2 separate regions of the Homo sapiens genome follow, and region 2 is linked to region 1. The links come from fine-mapping of genetic effects on gene expression. Tissue or cell type: whole blood. Region 1 holds a variant in brackets; the other region holds the start of a gene. All regions are shown on one strand. Distances are from middle to middle.

Region 1 (9,115 bases):
ACCAGGCTGACGGTGGAGGAAGTGGTGAGGGGTCAGGTTCTGGAGATATTTTGAAAGTAGAGCCTGTAGGATTTGCGGATATATTAGATGTGACAGAAGAGGCACTGAGGACAGTTGCTAGATGTTTGGCTGGAGCAACGGGAAGGTGGGCAATTTCTGTGAACCCATGGATGTCACTAGGAACCAGTTCAACAGCACTTCAGTAGATCAAAGTGTTGACTGTTACTTGTGTCATGTAGGCCCTGGCCATGCAGCAATAAAGAGGCAGACGCATCCTGTCCTCATGGGGCTCCCAGCCCAGCAGGGAGGACGGGCAGAAAGCAGTCGTTTTATTGTGATGACCAAGACCAAAGAAGGGTGTGCGTGCGCGTGTGTGTACACGCGGTGGTATGCGTGTGCTCCTAGTGGCGTGTGTATGTGCATGCTGAGGTTGTGTGTGTGTTGTGTGTGTGTGTGTGTGCATGCGTATGCGTGTACTCATGTCAGGGGCCCTAATGCAGGCTGGGTACAGCCCAACTTGGACAGCTCCCCTCCAGTGACCGGGGTCACCCGGTGCTGCTGCTGGATCAAATTGAGGACAACGCCAGGGGCCACAGATCTGACCACCACCCTACCGCATTGCAAATACTCCCCAGCTTCTCTGGGCAAAGTCCTAGAATATATTCCAAATACAATGCAGTTGGAAAGCATTGCAGATTTCAGAATCGCAGGCACTGGCTCTTTCTCGGAAGGCCTCATCACAGTCTGGTGGCATAGTACCTAAATTGAGTATGAGCACAACACCTTTGTCCCCCCAAATACCTCACATATCTACATCTACACCCCTGGTTTTTGATGCTACAGGATATCAGATGAAATGATGACTCTAAAAATATAAAAATCTTGCAATATTAATCAAATGAAGTCAAGTAAAATAAGAAATTCTCAACCAAATGAAAATTGCCAGGAAAACACTAATCAAGATGCTTTGGAACAAAACCTAAGCTCTGTGTCCAGTTCCCATCAGTCCTGCCATTTGGCTTCCTGTTTGTTTGCGGCTCAGGGCTTCCCCCACCTCATTTCACAGTATTCTCAGAGGGGACCCCAGTAGGGCAGGGAGGCGCAGGGGGCTCGCTGGCTGCCAGGATCGCCCAGGTGTGGCTGGTGGAGCACAGAACCCCTGGCTGCGTCGGAGCCACAGTGCGGGGGGTTAGGAGGAGGCTGCTTGTGTGCCTTCTTAGGAGGATTAGCCAGGCCTGCCCCGCCCCCAGCCTGCTGCTGCCGGCTAAGCCTGGGAGGGGAGAGGTCACCGGCAGCTCCCGCCCCTCCTCCTCGCGCTTGCCCACAGGTTTCCAGAAGGCGGCACCACCTTTCTAGGTTGCTGTTTACTGAAATATGCCCTGACCTCTGACCCTTGTCACAGCCTGGTCAGATGGATAGATGGCATCACCTCCACTTAGGAAACTGAGGCTCTGCAACATTTAGTGACCTGCCCAAGGGCACACAGCTAGGAAGTGGTGGGCCAGGGCTTGAATCTAGGTTCGTCTAACCCCTGTCTCTAGAGATGACCTCAGTGTCCTGAGGTGACCAAGTCCGATTACTCCTTTATACAGGGAAGGGAGGGATGAGACTCAGGGGCTGCCCCTTGCTCAGAGTTATCCAGCGCACCAGGTGCAGGGGCAGGCTTGAGACTCCCAGTGCGGAGATCTTCCTGTAGGGTTCACTTCCCCCTCGCCCAGAGGTGGTAACTTTGGAAGTCCTGGGAGGCTTCCTGGAGGAGGTATCTGGAGTCCAGGCTCCAGCTCAGAAGGTGGGGAGAGGCAGTTTGCAGGAAAACTTCAAATACCGCCCTGTCCCTCAAACCCTGACCCCGCTGACCTCCCCTCCCGCTTCCTACTGGGCGGCTCCTGGGACACTGGATGGGGCAGGCACAGCCCCTCCCATCGCTGCCGTCCGTCCCCCCAGGGCGCCGAGACCAGGAAGCGCTCGCCCACACTTAGCAGCCAGTTCAAGCGGTCACTGGAGCTGCTGATGCGCACGCTGGGTGCCTGCCAGCCCTTCTTTGTGCGATGCATCAAGCCCAATGAGTTCAAGAAGCCCATGGTGAGTGGCCCTGGCCTGGGGTTGGCGGGTGGCGGCTAGGGTGACGTGGAGGAGCTAGGTCAAGAATAAGGTAGGGTGGGAGTGAAGGATGTGAGACTTTGTCCCTTTGGGGAATGGGGGGCACCCCGGGAGCTTACAAAACAAGGCCCCCTATTTATTGGAGGCAGCAGGTGCCTTGGAAAGAGCCTAGACTCTGCGGGGGGTTGCAGCAGGTTCAGATCCTGCCTCTACCATGTACAAGTGGGCGACTGCAGACAAAGCAGTTTCTTCTCTTATGCCTCAGTTTCCTCATAGATGGAAACGGGACTGACCGTATCTACCTCCTAAGGCTATTCCATGCAGTAATGCTTGCAGATGCCCACACCCAGCAAGTGCCCAGTGATTGGCAGCTGTGGTTCTTGCTGGGGCTGCTTCTTTGAAAGTCCCCTTCTCCTTTGGCCCAGCTCAACCACCACCTCCTCCTGGAAGCCTCCCCCATCTCTTCAGCTGGTTGGGATATCCTCATTCTTGACTTTTCTGAATAACATTTGTTGGGCCCTTTCTGTGTGCCCAGCATAGGCTGGATGGTCAGTCCACAGCCTCCTTCAACCTTCTCAAACAGCCCGTGAGAAAGGGACTGTGCTGGTCCCAGGTTAGAGATGCGGGACTGGGGGCTCAGGGAGGTTAAGGGGCTCAGGCTGGGGCCACCTCGCTGCGAGCCCTCTCCTTTCGCAGCACAGGCTCTGGGAGGGTTGTTTACCCAGAGGCCTGCAGGGAGGCACAGGGGGAAGCTGGGGCCTCGGGATCTGGGGAGGGAAGGAAGGCCGGGGAAAGTGGCCCGGAGAGAGAGGAAACAGTCTCCGGAAGCTGACAGGCTGCAAGACCGTCCCCTCCTGCTGCCTCCTGCCTGGAAAACATGTCCCAGAGTGGATGAGGCCTGTCCCCTTTAGGACTCAGGTCTGCAGGGGCCTGAGGGTCGCAGAGGGCTCCAGTGAGCTCTCCCTCTAATGCAGGGGGTGCAGGGGACTGACACCAGGGCAGTCGGGCACAGTCTTCCCTGGCTCTGAAGTGGGACCCTTCCCTCGGCCCAGTCCTCAGCATCTGTGGACTGGGCCTTGGCAATAGCCTCCTCAAGGGTCTCCTGCCTCCCTTGCCTCCTGTCCTGCCTCCCCTGGCCCCCAGTGACATTGTTCTCAAATGCAGACCTGGCCCAGTCTCTCCCTGCTCTAAAACTTCCCTGGCTTCCAGCATCCATGGATGAGGCCCTCACAGAGCCCCACAGCCTCACAGCCCAGCACCTGCCTTCTACTCTTTCTCCCCAGCCCCTCCACCAACCAAACCCCAGGGCCCTTTGAAAAATGTGCCTCTTCCTTAAGGCAGCTAGAAAGTTGTCTGAATAACCGCAGATCTACAATACCTGCAACGTGAAAGGTCCTCCCTGGGGCTGTGCAGAGCACCCCTCACCTGCACAGCCATAACTTGGCCTGGACGAGCCTCTCTAGCTCCCTCAAGATTCCCAGCAAAGTCCTGCGCTTTCAGGCTTCCAAACCTTTGCACAGGCTCACCCCCTCCAGCCTTGGAATACTCCCCCTCCTGTCAGGGTTAGGGTGATAAAGACGCCTCCTCCATGAAGCTCCCCACTTGGGTGTCCCAAGGGGAATTAATCTGTCTTCTCTGTGCTCCCAAAGCACACAGCTCCACCACGACAGGCCTCACTTTATGCTCTTTTGTGGATTTGAGCTGCAGATCCCGGTGCCTGTCCCAGCTTTGCTCCTCCCATGCCGTGTGGACTTGGCCTTTCTGAGCCTTTGTCTGGGTTGGTCAAGTGCACAGCAGGGCTGCCTCCCAGCAGGAGCCTTGGCCCTGATGCCCTTGGCTGTGTGCCTGGCAGCTGTTCGACCGGCACCTGTGCGTGCGCCAGCTGCGGTACTCAGGAATGATGGAGACCATCCGAATCCGCCGAGCTGGCTACCCCATCCGCTACAGCTTCGTAGAGTTTGTGGAGCGGTACCGTGTGCTGCTGCCAGGTGTGAAGCCGGCCTACAAGCAGGTACAGGGCTGAGTGCACAGAGGGCAGGAGGGGAGGGTCCCAGCTTTGGCTGGGCAAGGGTCCCAATTTTCTTATCAGGACCATGGGCGGGGCTTGACATCTGCTTGACCTCTCAGGTGCAGCACGGAAAATTGGGGTTCAGGTATTGGAATGCATCAGTGGGCTTCAGTTGCCATGTTCAGCTGGTGAGGACTTCACACATGGTGGTGTAAGGAACAAGACCAGGGCTGCCACGCGGGCCCTGGATGTCAGTTGTGAGAAAGGGTTTTGCAATCATACCATCCAGCTGAGCTAAGGAGAAAACTGGGGCTCAGAGAAGGCAGGACCCAGCTGAGGTCACACTTC[G/C]AGTCAGGGGCAGAGCTCGGGAAGAGCCCTGCCTCTCAGCCTCGGGGACACTCCGGAGGCCTTCCCACTGGAGAGGCTGTCCATTCCCTTGTGTTCCCCATCCTCACTCCAGGGCGACCTCCGCGGGACTTGCCAGCGCATGGCTGAGGCTGTGCTGGGCACCCACGATGACTGGCAGATAGGCAAAACCAAGATCTTTCTGAAGGTGAGCACAGATGCCTTCCCTGGGCTGCCCTGGGGGGGCTGTAAATTCCCATGATGTGGGCTGGGGTGCTCGGGAGAGGGAGGCAGTGCTGGGGCTTTGAGATCCTTTCTGCCGGGCTGTGGTGTGGCTGGAGGAGCAGGTGGGATCTGGCCTCTCTGGTGGGGAAGGGTAATTTGGTGTTTGAGATCATCTACAACCTGGGAGTGGGGTCAGAGCACTGACCACAGGTTACAAAGCACATGCCAGGGGCGGGCTGGCTGTTAGGCCCACAGCAGGGAGGCAGGGGTGCTGCTTGCCTTGGGGCCCTTTCTGAGCCTCATTTTCCCATCTGTAAATTGGGGTGTGCCTGTGTGGGGTCTCTTGAGTGTATCTTTAGGTTCCTTCCTGTGGTTTCCTGCCTGGCAGGGCCCATCCCGTGCTGGGGTCCGCAGCATGCCACCTGTCCGTCACTCTGTAGGGAGCTCAGCTCCCATTGCTGCCTGGGCAGCTGGGGAAGGAAGCAGGAAGCAAGGCCTGCGGGAGTCGCGGAGTCACAGCCTTGGAGACATGGCTGGGAGCTGGCAGTGGCAGGGCAGCCGCAGCAGGGACAGTGCGAGCTCCCAGTGCTGGGCTTCCCCATTTGCATTTCCGCTGTGCTAGATTTCTGGCTGTCCCGGATGACAGGGCTCCTTCCTCTGGTGTGGGGGGTGGGGCCTGGGCACTCCAAGGACAGCTGCAGGAGGGACAAGAACCAGCTCCGAACTGGAGGGAGCCTGCGGCCTCTTCTAATTCCTCTCCAGCCAAGGGGCTTCAGGCTAGGCCCTTTCTCTCCTTGCACCTGCATTTCCTCATCAGCAAGATGTGATGAATGTTCCCTGCCTGTGCCTCCCACAGCTGTCAGCCAGAAAGCACATTCCATGTGCCAGGCCCTGGGTGGGTGCTTTTCATCCATGAGCTCATTTAATCCTTGAAACAGTCCTGTGGAGAAGGAAATATTATACCCATTTCACAGGCTCAGAGAGAAGTGAGTTGCCTGAAACCAGGCAGCTAGGAAGCAGGGAGCAGGACTTCTAGTCTGGGAAGGTCTGATGCCCAGCCCCTGTGTGGGCAAAGTGGGGAAGGCAGGAATCATGATGGCATCTAGTACCAGGGAACTCGGAGGAGCTCCATCAGCCCCTGACTTACACTGCTAGGCTCTTCCGATATGGCCTTGGTTTTGAGAGGCCAAACATGCTCATTCATCCATTCATTCATTCAGAATGCCTCGGCTGAGCATCTCCTCTGTCAGGGCCCTGTGTGTCTGTGATTATCTGATGGATTTGGCTCCCTCATGAGACTCTACCCTCCCCAAGGGCAGGGGCCATGTCTCCCTGGTTCATTGTGGCAGCCCCTCCCCTCCCCAGCATCTAGCACAGTGCCAGCACATGGAGGTGTTCAATTCATATATATTAAGTGAACCAATGAAGTTTTGTCCAACTACAGTGAGGGTTGGGGTCTTGGATGAGGAGGAGAGAGGGCTGAAAAAGTTGGCAGACACCCTGGATCATGGGTGGCCTTGAATGCCAGGGTGAGGAACCCAGGCTCGACGTGGGGAACCATGAGGTGTCACTGTAGGGTCACCATCCAGGTTGTGTTGAGGAGGGTCCCTCTGGCTGCTTGTGAAGGAGCGCCAGAGAGGGAGCCAGGAGGCCGCGAGACCTTTAGTTAGGAGGCTGCTGCCAAGGTTCGGGAGAAGAATGGCAACAGCCCAGCCCAGGTGAGGGACTGATGTGACAGGGACGTCTAGAAGCAGGGGGCTTGGGCAGATTGACGATAGGGAAGAAGCTGGTGTGTGTGCATACTGGGCCTTCCGACCCCATCCAGAGAGATTAGGCACCTTCTGCTCCATTTGTCCTGCCTGGACCTCTGGGAAACAGCCACAACCCCTGTCTGTCCTGGTGGCTGTGGGAGGCTGCCCCAGGGGCCAGAGCCAGCTGGGAGCTCATGGGGCCCAACTGAGTTCTTGACCTGTGCTCCCAGTGAAGGAAGAGCAGCCCCCACTGGGACTGAGCAGGTGGTCCTAGAGGAGACCTTGTGGGGCGCTGCTCAGGAGCTCTGCCTCCTAGGACCACCATGACATGCTGCTGGAAGTGGAGCGGGACAAAGCCATCACCGACAGAGTCATCCTCCTTCAGAAAGTCATCCGGGGATTCAAAGACAGGTGCGTGTTCCCACCAGCTCCTCCCCTCCTCAGCCCACATACAGGTGTACGTGTGGTGTTTGGCTCTCCTCTGCTCTGCCCGCATGAACACTAGGAAAAAAACGTGTTCACCTATGAAACAAGTGCACACATGCATGGCATGCACACATGATCATGTAAACACAGAGGAACATAGATACATGATTTACATGGACCCATTGTGCCACGTAAGCCAAATAATGCAATACATTCACCTACATATGCACATGCACACGTAGATACATGAGACTCACATGTGGACCCACTGTTCATGTCAGATGCTGATGAAATTTTGCAAAGAGGAAATTTGAGATTTTATAAATTATTAATACAAAATGTGTCTCATATTCTATCTAAGGGATATGTGTACACGTGACAATTCACAAATGTGCAGGACTGACTCCAAAGTGTGATTAAAGCTCTGCAAAAATTCCACAATGCACCCCTTTGCAGTTCATATGGTCACTCTCTCCCTTCTTCCACTCGTCCACCCACCTACCTATCCATCCGTCCGTTCACCCACCCACCTACCCATCCATCCATCCATCCATCTGCCCACCTATTCACCCATCCATCCATCCATCCATCCACCCGCCCACACACCCACCTAGTCACTCATCCATCCACCTATCCACCCACACATTCATCCATCAATTCACCCACCAACCCATCCACCATCCATCCATCCACCCACCCACCCATCCATTCACTCATCAGTCCACCCACCCATCCACCTACCCATTCATTCCTCCATTCATCCATTCACCCACCCACTCCCACAGTTGCTCATTTGCTTATGTGTGTCTCCAAGCATTGACTTATTGGCTCACTTGCATACTTGCACACCCATCCTTCGCTCTTCCTTTATTTATTTCTACATTCAGCAGACCCCTGCTGTCTGTGCATGGTCTCTGTCCTCTATCAGGCTGAAGATGACTGTTCTCCTATAGAAGCAGCCTGCTGTGTGCAGGGGGAACAGCACTGGGCTCACTTAGGGTCAGTCAGAAGACATGGGCTCTAGTCCCAACCTATCAAGTCTCAGTTGCCTCATGTATAAACTGAGGAAGTTAGACTGTTCAAAGCTTTTGATCTTTATATTATTTTAATTACTTATTTTTTCATACATTTATTCATTCAACAAATACCTTTTGAATGTCTACCTTCATGGGCTTATGTGACAGGCCTGTGGGGCAGGCAGGGCAGGCATTATTCTACACATTGTACGGATGAGGAAGCTGAGGCACAGAAGTTATGTGCCTTGCCCAAGGTCATATAGCTAGGAAGTCACAGAGCTGGGACTCAGCGTGCCCTCCTGATCCCAAACCCACCTGTACCCTGGCTGCCTCTGGACACTGCTCACCCGCGCCACTACTGCTGTTTCAGGTCTAACTTTCTGAAGCTGAAGAACGCTGCCACACTGATCCAGAGGCACTGGCGGGGTCACAACTGTAGGAAGAACTACGGGCTGGTGAGCCTCCCCATGGGCTGCTCTTGCCCAAACAGGCCTTTGAACCCAGCCTTGCTGCCATGGCAGTGGGACTGGCCTGCACCCAGGCAGCACAGCCTGGCCTCGTTGGCCTCCTGCCACTGCCCTGGCCAGCCACTACCATTCCTCCAGACCGAAGTCTGGATCTGGCTCTTGTGGCTTCTTCCAACTGGCCAGCAATGTTTGTTGCTCTCCTTCTGGAGTGTTTTTGGGGGTTGGGAGCACTCTGGGATTATTAGAGATCTCAGACAGGGTGAGAGTGGCTGGGTCACATGGACCTCTGTGCAGCAGCTGGGCTTAGGACTTGTTGGGGCTGGATGGGAAGCAGACTGGTTGGTTGCAGCTCCTGATCTAGGATTCTCTTGGGGGCCCCAACTCAGGGAGAGTCAAGGTCACCTAAAAATATGTTGCCTGAGAGGAAACAGAACTTTCTAACGATGGGGGGGCACTAATCTGAGAGGAGACTGGGCCACGCCTTCTGGGGGTGCCTGTCTGAGAGTGGAGGCCGGTGCCATGGAAGCTCCTGCAGGCAGGGTCAGTCTGGAATGGGACAGCAGGCTCTGAGCATGGGGTGGCTGTCCTTGCAGATGCGTCTGGGCTTCCTGCGGCTGCAGGCCCTGCACCGCTCCCGGAAGCTGCACCAGCAGTACCGCCTGGCCCGCCAGCGCATCATCCAGTTCCAGGCCCGCTGCCGCGCCTATCTGGTGCGCAAGGCCTTCCGCCACCGCCTCTGGGCTGTGCTCACCGTGCAGGCCTATGCCCGGGGCATGA
Region 2 (9,279 bases), 46 kb before region 1:
AGCCTCTCTGCTGTAAGACCCCAGCTTTTCCTGGAAGATGGGACTCTGGGGTGTGTGGTGCTCACCAGAGTCAGGCCACCCACTGGGCTCGGCAGGAGATAGGGAGCCCCATCACCTGACCACAGCCCCCCACCAACATTCCCCCAAAATGCAGCCTAGGAGGCCGCAGTGCTCTTCTTCCTGCCCAGACCAAAATGTTCCTTTTAGTCCTCAATGTTTTATATTCTTTTTGTTTTGAAAATCTCAATTTTAATCAGGGGTTTTAAAAGAAAATTGAAAGCCTGAACCTCCATTTTTCTTCTTGGCTCCAGTTTTGCTGGTCCTCTGGAGAACTCTTCGTGAGCACTGGTGCCGTGACCCACTTGGGATCTCTGCTGTGCCCTTCTCGGGCTTCCAGACCAGGTGTAGCAAATGAAAAAGTGCAGTTAATTCAAGAACAGGAATCCCTGTGTCCTTGCTGGGATTTCCTTTTGGGAACCTGACTTTCCGACTCCAGATCCTGCTGTCTGGATCAGTGTTCTGGCTGGAGGTGCTGGATTCTCTGATTTTGCCTCCTCACTCTGTGTCTGGCTTTGCTCCTGGGTCTTGGCCCTGGGCCATATGAGGGGCCAGGAAATGAACGACAAGGAGGATAAGAGTGTTCTTTCTTGAAAGCCGGGACTTCCCCTCAAGAACCTGGGCCTGGGGCCGGGACTCTGCATGACTGGGAGCAAGTCACTTAAACCTCCTGTGCCTCGATTTCCCCCTTCTACAAAGTGGGGCCAATGATTCTTGTGTGTCAGCACTGTTACTACCGAGTGCTGAGTAAGGGCAAAATAATACCCCTTTCTCTATGTATCTCTGTATGCACACGCACTATATATATATATATATATATATATACATTCATGTAATCACCACTTCTCGATGTCTATTTCAAATCAAGGCTCCTGAGTAGGGGGTGAAGTGAGCCAGCTTGCACCTCAGGCTAACACATAGGACTTTGCTCAGCCATGTCCCCTGGGATACAGGGGCACACCAGGACCAAGTGGCAGACCTGTGGGCTTCAGCCTCGGGGCCGGGGCATGCCTGCCACCCCCTGACAAAAACAGGTTCCACAGTGCTACCCTTGCTTCCTGCCCCTTGAGGTGGGCCAGGCTGGCTCCTGGCTATGCAGGGATCTCTGGTCCCCAGGAGACCTTGGGGGCCAGGCAGGTAAGGATCAGGGGTGATAGGGGAGAGCAATTACTTTGTTCACTGTATGCACCCGCGGGGGCCTGGGAGTCCCCATTTGCAGGTGGGTAGGGCCTCCAGCCCACACCACCCAGACCTAGGCTTCCCTCTTCTCAGGATCCACCACAGGGTTAGGGGACAGGAAGCCTGTTCTATTCTCAATAAATCTTACAAAATTCCAAAAAGACTTTCCTGTGTCCCTCTGTCCCCCTGGGGGGAAGGGACAATGGAGGAATATTCCCCAGGCCTGGGCGACTGTCCGCTGGTCAGAGGGAAGGCCCCGCTGCCTGCCCGGTGCACCTGTGAGCTGAGATTGTGGGGATCATTCAGTCATTCCTTTATTCAGTAGATCTGTACGGGGCTGGCTTTGTGCCAAGGCCTGCCCCGGGCACCTGGGATGTGGGGAACCAGGCATAGCAATCCCTGCTCTGGGACAGTCTACAAACGAGCAGCGAGAACAAAGACATACTCTGGTCATGACAGACACTACCCCGCACATTACTGATGGGGCAGTGTGGGCCTGCTGGGTTAGAGACGGCCTACTCCCTGATCTGTGCATGAAGGGCTGGGAAGAGGAGATGGGCCTTCGGGGCACAGGAAGGTGTGGGGGGACCAGAGCGGAGGCTGCTGAGGGCAGATGCAGGCATCTAGGGCCAGGAAGCTGGTGTGGTGGTGGGGAGAAGCAGGGTTGGGATGACTGAAAGCAGAGTGGACGACTCAATGAAAAACGACTTGGGAGACGGGGTGAGTGCAGTGTGAGGGCAAAGTGAACCGAGATGCCTCGCTTTCTTCATGGGACTGAGAAATGGGTATTGCAAATCGTGTGATCTGCTTAGCATAGTGCCTGGTTCATAGCATGGCTGAACACAATGTAGCTGTCATCCTGGTGTTTGGAGGCCGCCCTGTCCCCCATAACCTGCCCACCTCTCTGCCCCATTCCCACAGCTCACTGCATTTTGTCCCTGCTGCCAGTCGTGTGCCATGGGCTCTCCTGTGCTCCCCCGGGGTCTCATTTCCCCATCCGTGTAGGGCTGACGCCACTGGCCCCGCCCAGCCTGGGAGGATGGAGAGGGGGGACTTGAGGAGTGGCCAGTACTGGGTTTCGGCAGCAGGTGCAAATCCCAGGTGGGGACTGTGTTCCAGGGACTCCTGGACTCCTGTTAGGCCAGCAGGCTAAGGGGCAGACGGCATCCTGGGGTCTTCCTGGGACAGGGTCGTCGGGTCTGAGGGGACCCAGGCCCTAGCAGAAGCTGACTCCTGTCACGGTCACTTCCCAGCGGTGCTCAGCCCGCCTGACGGAAGCAGCTGGGCAGTGGGGCCTGTGACCAGCAGGCGGCGCTGGCGAGCTATAGCGCCCCTTTGGGCCCCCACCCCACCTTCTGGGCAGCTTCCCTGCAGACACCCCAGTTATGGGGGCTAGGGACCCAAAAGAGACATCCTTCTGCCACCCAGAGCTGCCCTGGCGAGGTGCACTATGGGGCCGCCGACAGCTGCGTGGCTGCCGAGGGCGGAAAGGAGAAACTGTCATGTCCCGATAGGGCCGCGCGAGGTCTCCATCCTCGACAACGCTAATAACAAAGACGTGTGCTCCTCTTTGCTTGGTTCCCCCCACTCCTTTAAATCACAGATTTCACTTCAGTTTATCTGTGTCGCTGTCACACGTGGGGTGGCTCCCAGTCAGCTGGTTTGGCAAAGTTTCTGGATGATTACGGAATAACATGTGTCCCCAACCCGCAGAGCAGGTTGTGGGGGCAATGTTGCATTGACCAGCGTCAGAGAACACACATCAGAGGCAAGGGTGGGTGTGCAGGAGGGAGAAGGCGCAGAAGGCAGGGCTTTAGCTCAGCACTCTCCCTCCTGCCATGCTCTGCCTGACCGTTCCCTCTCTGAGTCCCAAACAGCCAGGTAGAGGAGGAAGAAATGGGGCTGAGACCCCAGCACATCAGTGATTAAGTCAGGATCAGGTGCGGTTTCCTGCTCAGGTGCTGAGACAGCAGGCGGTGTCCTGCAAACAACAGGAGGCACCTGAAGCTAGCCTGGGGGGCCCACGCCCAGGTGCGGTGCATTCAGCAGCACAGCCAGAGACAGACCCCAATGACCCCGCCTCCCTGTCGGCAGCCAGTGCTCTGCACAGAGCCCTGAGCAGCCTCTGGACATTAGTCCCAGCCCCAGCACGGCCCGTCCCCCACGCTGATGTCACCGCACCCAGACCTTGGAGGCCCCCTCCGGCTCCGCCTCCTGGGAGAAGGCTCTGGAGTGAGGAGGGGAGGGCAGCAGTGCTGGCTGGACAGCTGCTCTGGGCAGGAGAGAGAGGGAGAGACAAGAGACACACACAGAGAGACGGCGAGGAAGGGAAAGACCCAGAGGGACGCCTAGAACGAGACTTGGAGCCAGACAGAGGAAGAGGGGACGTGTGTTTGCAGACTGGCTGGGCCCGTGACCCAGCTTCCTGAGTCCTCCGTGCAGGTGGCAGCTGTACCAGGCTGGCAGGTCACTGAGAGTGGGCAGCTGGGCCCCAGGTAAGGATGGGCTGCCCACTGTCCTGGGCATTGGGAGGGGTTTGGATGTGGAGGAGTCATGGACTTGAGCTACCTCTAGAGCCTCTGCCCCACAGCCACTTGCTCCTGGGACTGGGCTTCCTGCCACCCTTGAGGGCTCAGCCACCACAGCCACTGAATGAAACTGTCCCGAGCCTGGGAAGATGGATGTGTGTCCCCTGGAGGAGGGAAGAGCCAAGGAGCATGTTGTCCATCGAATCTTCTCTGAGCTGGGGCTGGGGTTAGTGGCATCCTGGGGCCAGGGGAATAGACATGCTGTGGTGGCAGAGAGAAGAGTCCGTTCTCTCTGTCTCCTTTGCTTTCTCTCTGACACTCTTTATCTCCGTTTTTGGATAAGTCACTTCCTTCCTCTATGCCCCAAATATCCCATCTGTGAAATGGGAGTATGAAGCCCCAACAGCCAGGGTTGTAGTGGGGAAGAGGTAAAATCAGGTATAGACATAGAAATACAAATACAGTCTATGCCCCCTGTTGTCAGTTGGAAAAGAAATTAACTTGAAGGTGGTCTAGTTCTCATTTTTAGAAATGAAATGTCTGTCTGGTCATTTTAAAATGTGGCCCTTAAATTTCACGCCCTCACCACTCTCCCCCATCCCTTGGAGCCCCATGTCTCTAGTGAAAGCACTGGCTCTGCCCCCAGCCCTCATGGCTCATGCTGGCATAGGGCGCCTGCTCCACAGCCTGGGCACCATCTTCAGACAAGTGCCCGGTGGCAACTGCCTGCTGGCCCTGTTGAATCCACATCTCCACCAGGCATCCAGACTAGTTCAGGTCTCTGGAAGGACTGTGGGTTTGCTGTGTCCCAGAGCTCCAGGGCAGGGGTCAGGGCTCGGATGTCGGGCAGTGTCATGGGCAGAGGATCGAATGCCCCGGCGGCTCTGAATGGGCCCTTGTGAAAAATTGATGCGCATTCTAGGAGACAGGTTGGGAGCCAGAGGGGCCTCATACCAGGGTCTGTAGGCTGGGGCTGCCTTTTAAGCTCCTTCCTGAGGCCGTCTCTGGGTCTGGCCCTGTGCTGGACAAGGCTGGAGACAAGGCAATGTCTCAGACCCTCTCCCATTGGCCACATCCTGCCCTGGATCAACTCGCCAACTTTGGGGGCAGAGGTGGGACTGACCCTTACCCTGACAACATAATGCATATAGTCAAAATGGGATAAAGGGGAATATAGAGGCTCTTGGCAGCTTGGGAGTGGTCAGGGAAGGCTTCCTGGAGGAGGTATCATCTGAACTGAGCCATGAACCATAAGTGGAAATTCACTAGTCAAAATTTCAGGTAGAAGGGCCAGTGTGTGAAGGCCAGGAGATGGCAAGAGCTGGCGTATTTCAGGAACAGTGAGTCACTGAGGATGTCCAAGTATAAGGGTAGGAAAGGGAGTGAGCAGTGAGAGAAAAGACCGAGGCATCAGCAGGGGCCAGATTGTGCTGGGCCTAGCGGGGCGGGCCCGGGCCCGGGCCCAGGCCCAGGTGCGGTGCATTCAGCAGCACAGCCAGAGACAGACCCCAATGACCCTGCCTCCCCGTCAGCAGCCAGTGCTCTGCACAGAGCCATCCTGAGGGCAGTGGGTGCTCTTGAGAGGTTTCAGGCAGGGTGTGCTGTGAGCAGGTCATGCCCAGCCCTTGACCTTCTGCTCAGTCAGGCTTGTCCTTGTCACCCACATTCCTGGGGCAGTCCCTAAGCTGAGTGCCGGAGATTAAGTCCTAGTCCTAAATTTGCTCTGGCTAGCTGTGTGACCCTGGGCAAGTCTTGGTCCCTCTCTGGGCCCCTTTGCCGTAGGTCCCTGGTGGGGCCAGACTTGCTACTTTCTAGGAGCCCTTTGGGAATCTCTGAATGACAGTGGCTGAGAGAAGAATTCAGCTGCTCTGGGCAGTGGTGCTGGTGACAGTGGCTGAGGCTCAGGTCACACAGGCTGGGCAGTGGTCAGAGGGAGAGAAGCCAAGGAGGGTTCCCTTGAGGGAGGAGGAGCTGGGGCTTTGGGAGGAGCCCAGGTGACCCCAGCCAGGCTCAAGGCTTCCAGGGCTGGCCTGCCCAGAAGCATGACATGGTCTCTCTCCCTGCAGAACTGTGCCTGGCCCAGTGGGCAGCAGGAGCTCCTGACTTGGGACCATGGTGATTCTTCAGCAGGTCAGTGTTCCCACCTCTTTGGGTGGCCTGTCCTCCCCAGGCCATATCCCCTCATCCATATGCTTACCCGTGGGACACCCTCCCCAGGGTGTTCTCTTGGAAAATTCCTGCCTAGGCTTCCAAACCCAGCCCTCCAGGCTGAGGCCTAGTCTGAAACCTGTTCCCTCTGCTGTGCCAGCTGGGGTTTCCTTCTCTCACTGGCTCACCCCACTGGGCAGAAATGAGTTTATTTACACACATCTCTGGATCCCAGGCAGTGGAACAGCATGTGCAAAGGCCCAGGTGTGGGAAGGTCCCTGGGGAAGAGGAGAGGAGGTTGGCAAGGCTCCCAAAGCCAGGCCAGGAAGGGCCCTGAGCCCAACTTATTCTTAGGGCCTTGGGGAGCAGTGACTGGAGGGCGGGGGGTGACAAGGCTTGAGCTGGAGCCCCCTGGGATTTTATGGGAAGAAGCAGAGGTGCTGGCCCGAGCTGAGTCCTCCAGCCCCCCTTCCTACTGAGGGCCACAGTGGCCTCTGACCCTCAGCCCTTCCCCGTGATCAGTCTGAGGCTCTAATGAGCTCCTGGCCTCCAGAGCAGGAGCCAGGAATGTGGGCCCTGAGCCAGGTGGGCCTGGCAGCAGGCCGTAGGGCTTGTGGGGCTGTGCATTATGGGGGCTTGGCCAGCAGCTTCTCGGTCTCCAGGGTCACCAGAGGCCAATGGCTCAGCCTTGCCTGGCCACCCTGAGGCTGCACGGACCAGCATGTTTGCATATGAGTGCGTGCGCGTGTGTGTGTCTGTGTGTGTGAGTGAGAGGCAGGCTTCAGGGCAGCATCAGGACAGACATTCTTCTATCCCAGGGGCTGGAGGAGACCCCCTTTAGAGCCCCTTGGCCTGAGAGCCTGTTCAAACGCCCATTAGAGATGGGCAGGATCTAGGAGAGGAAAAGTCCATTCGCTGAGTGTTTGCTGTGTGCCAGGGCCTGGGCCCCCATAGCCCTCCAGGGGCGTCCTCCCTCAGGGGGCCTCTGAGGCAGGCCTCTGGCTGATGGGACCTCCTCACCACCCCCTCCTCTCCTGCCCCTCTGAACGCTGACCCACCTCCAGCTGTGGGTGGCCTCTGTTGGGAGCAAGTGTCTTGTAGGTGAATGCCTGTTCTGCCTGCCCTCAAGCAGGAAGTACACTCAGCTCCTTCCTTGGTCCTGAAGAAAGCCCCAGCCCTGGGGAACCGGCCAGCTCTGCAGTTGCACAGGCCGGGCCTAATGGGCTCCAGCCCAGGCTTTGCTATTGATGAGTGGGAGGGCCTTGGGCACGTTACTCAGCCTTCCTGAGCCTCAGTTTCCTCATATGTAAAATGAAGATTAAAAGCCTCTTTTCCCACAGCTGCCGATGAGAGGCTAAAATGCCATGTGGAGCTCCATGAAAATGCTTCTTCCTTCCTCTGCTTCCCTGGTCTGCCCTCTCCTCCTCTCTTCCTGCCACATCCTTCCCGGTCCTGAAAGGTCCACGGAGTGCTTGGCTTCCCCTCTTGCCTGGCTGACTTCTGCTCAGGCTTCAGTGTAGCCTCTACTTCCTTCGGGAGGCTTCCCTGCTCTGCAAACCCCAGGGCCTGGTCCACAGTCCTCCTCCTTTCTCTGCCTACCTGGGGCTTCCTGATGAGCCCTGGACATGAGGGACAGCCTTCATCCCATTTCCCGTGGATCTTTCAGGATAGGGAAGGAACTGGCAGGAAGAGAGGAGGAGAGAGGCAGTCCAGGGAAGCAGATGAAGGAAGAAGCATTTTCATGGAGTCCCAAATGGCATTTTAGCTTCACAATGGCAGCTGTGGGAAAACAGGGGTTTTGTTTGTTTGTTTGTTTGTTTGTGTGTGTGTTTGTTTTGAGACAGAGTCTTGCTTTGTCACCAGGCTGAAGTGCTATGGCATGATTTTGGCTCACTGCAACCTTCGACTCCCTGGTTCAAGCAATTCTCCTGCCTCAGCCTCCTGAGTAGCTGGGATTACAGGCACCCGTCACCACGTCCAACTAATTTTTGTATTTTTAATAAAGACGGGGTTTCACCATGTTGGCCAGGATGGTCTTGATCTCCTGACCTCGTGATCCGCCCACCTCGGCCTCCCAAAGTACTGGGATTACAGGCGTGAGCCACCGCACCAGGTGGATAGAGGTTTTTAATCTGCATTTTGCATATGATGAAACAGGCTCAGGAAGGCTGAGTAATGTGCCCAAGGCCCTCTTACTCAACAGCAAAGCACAAGATGGAGCCCACTGGGCCCGGCCTGTGGAACTGCAGAGCGGGTCGGCTCCCGGGGCTCGGGTTCTTTTTAGGACCAAGGAAGCAGCTGAAGCATACTTCCTGCTTGAAGGCAGGAGGAGCAGGCATTCACCTACTATTCCCTGCCCTGGAGGAGTTCCCAGACCTATGTGGGGAGACAGCTTAGAAACCTAGGAAAGGCACTGTGACAGTGAGTCTCCAGGGGGCACGGGGATGAGAGGGCACCTGGGAATGGGAGAGCCTTCTGCCCTCCCTGGGAGAGGGTGGACAGGGAAGGCCATGAGACAGCTGCAGCAGCCTCTCATGAACATACAGGGACTGAGGTCTCTGGAAGAAGGACTAGCCCAGCTGACTAGTGGCGCACCTGTGTGGCACACCTGACTCACATCTTTAAGGACCACAAGGAGGGCTTTTGTGCTTCAGTATGTCATGATTCCCAGCTTCATGGTGGTGCCAGGGTAGGGACTCTGTGTACTTGGCCCAGATTTGTGGGCAGAGGGAGGTTTGAAGATAAATTTGTGGGCTGTTGATAACAGTTGGATTGATGCTTTTAGTAAAATATAATGTCCTTCTTTGTTTCTTGTAATGATTTTGACTTAACATCTATGTCTGATAGTGTAGTCATCTCAACTGTCTTTTGGTTACTATTTGCATGGAATACTATTTGCATGAAATCCTTCTACTTTTAACCTATTTGTGTCTTTGGATCTAAAGTGGATCTCTTGTAAGCAGCATATAGTTAGATCATGTGGTTGGTTTTTGTTTTGTTTTGTTTTTATCCATTCTGCCAGTCTTTACCTTTTGGTTGGAGAGTTTAATCTATTTACACATGAAGTAATTACTGTTAAGGAAGGACCTCTGCCATTTTGCTATGTTTTCTGTATGTCTTATATCTTTTCCTCCTCAATTCCTCATTACTGCTCTTTTGTGTTTAATTGACATTTTTTTCTAAAGTACTGTTTTGATTCTCATTTACTCTTCTGTGTATTTTAAAAGTTTTTTCCTCAATGATTATTCTTAGGTTTACAAATAACATCTTTTTTTTGAGATGGAGTTTCACTCTTGTAGCCCATGCTGGAGTGCAATGACACAATCTCGGCCCACTGCAACCTCTGCCTCCTGGGTTCAAGCAATTC

The links.
Region 2: MYO7A starts here. The variant in region 1 is fine-mapped to the expression of MYO7A in whole blood (TOPMed, PIP above 0.99). The same link has a PIP of 0.9 or more in blood mononuclear cells, monocytes and monocytes after interferon gamma.

What each region holds. Positions count from the first base shown.
Region 1 is chr11:77,170,804-77,179,918 of GRCh38, forward strand. It overlaps MYO7A (myosin VIIA), which reads left to right. Exons shown (of 49, transcript NM_000260.4): 16 at 1,945-2,082; 17 at 3,953-4,111; 18 at 4,569-4,661; 19 at 6,746-6,840; 20 at 8,242-8,326; 21 at 8,932-9,115. Among named protein-coding and RNA genes, the nearest start is that of MYO7A, 47 kb to the left of the region's middle. The variant G/C (reference allele first, on the strand shown) is at 4,457.
Region 2 is chr11:77,124,759-77,134,037 of GRCh38, forward strand. It overlaps MYO7A (myosin VIIA), which reads left to right and starts at 3,488. Exons shown (of 49, transcript NM_000260.4): 1 at 3,488-3,731; 2 at 5,831-5,894. The coding sequence starts at 5,877. It overlaps CAPN5 (calpain 5), which reads left to right. Exons shown (of 13, transcript NM_004055.5): 13 at 1-1,397. RefSeq lists enhancers at 2,174-2,896, 2,897-3,620, 4,343-5,066, 6,512-7,233.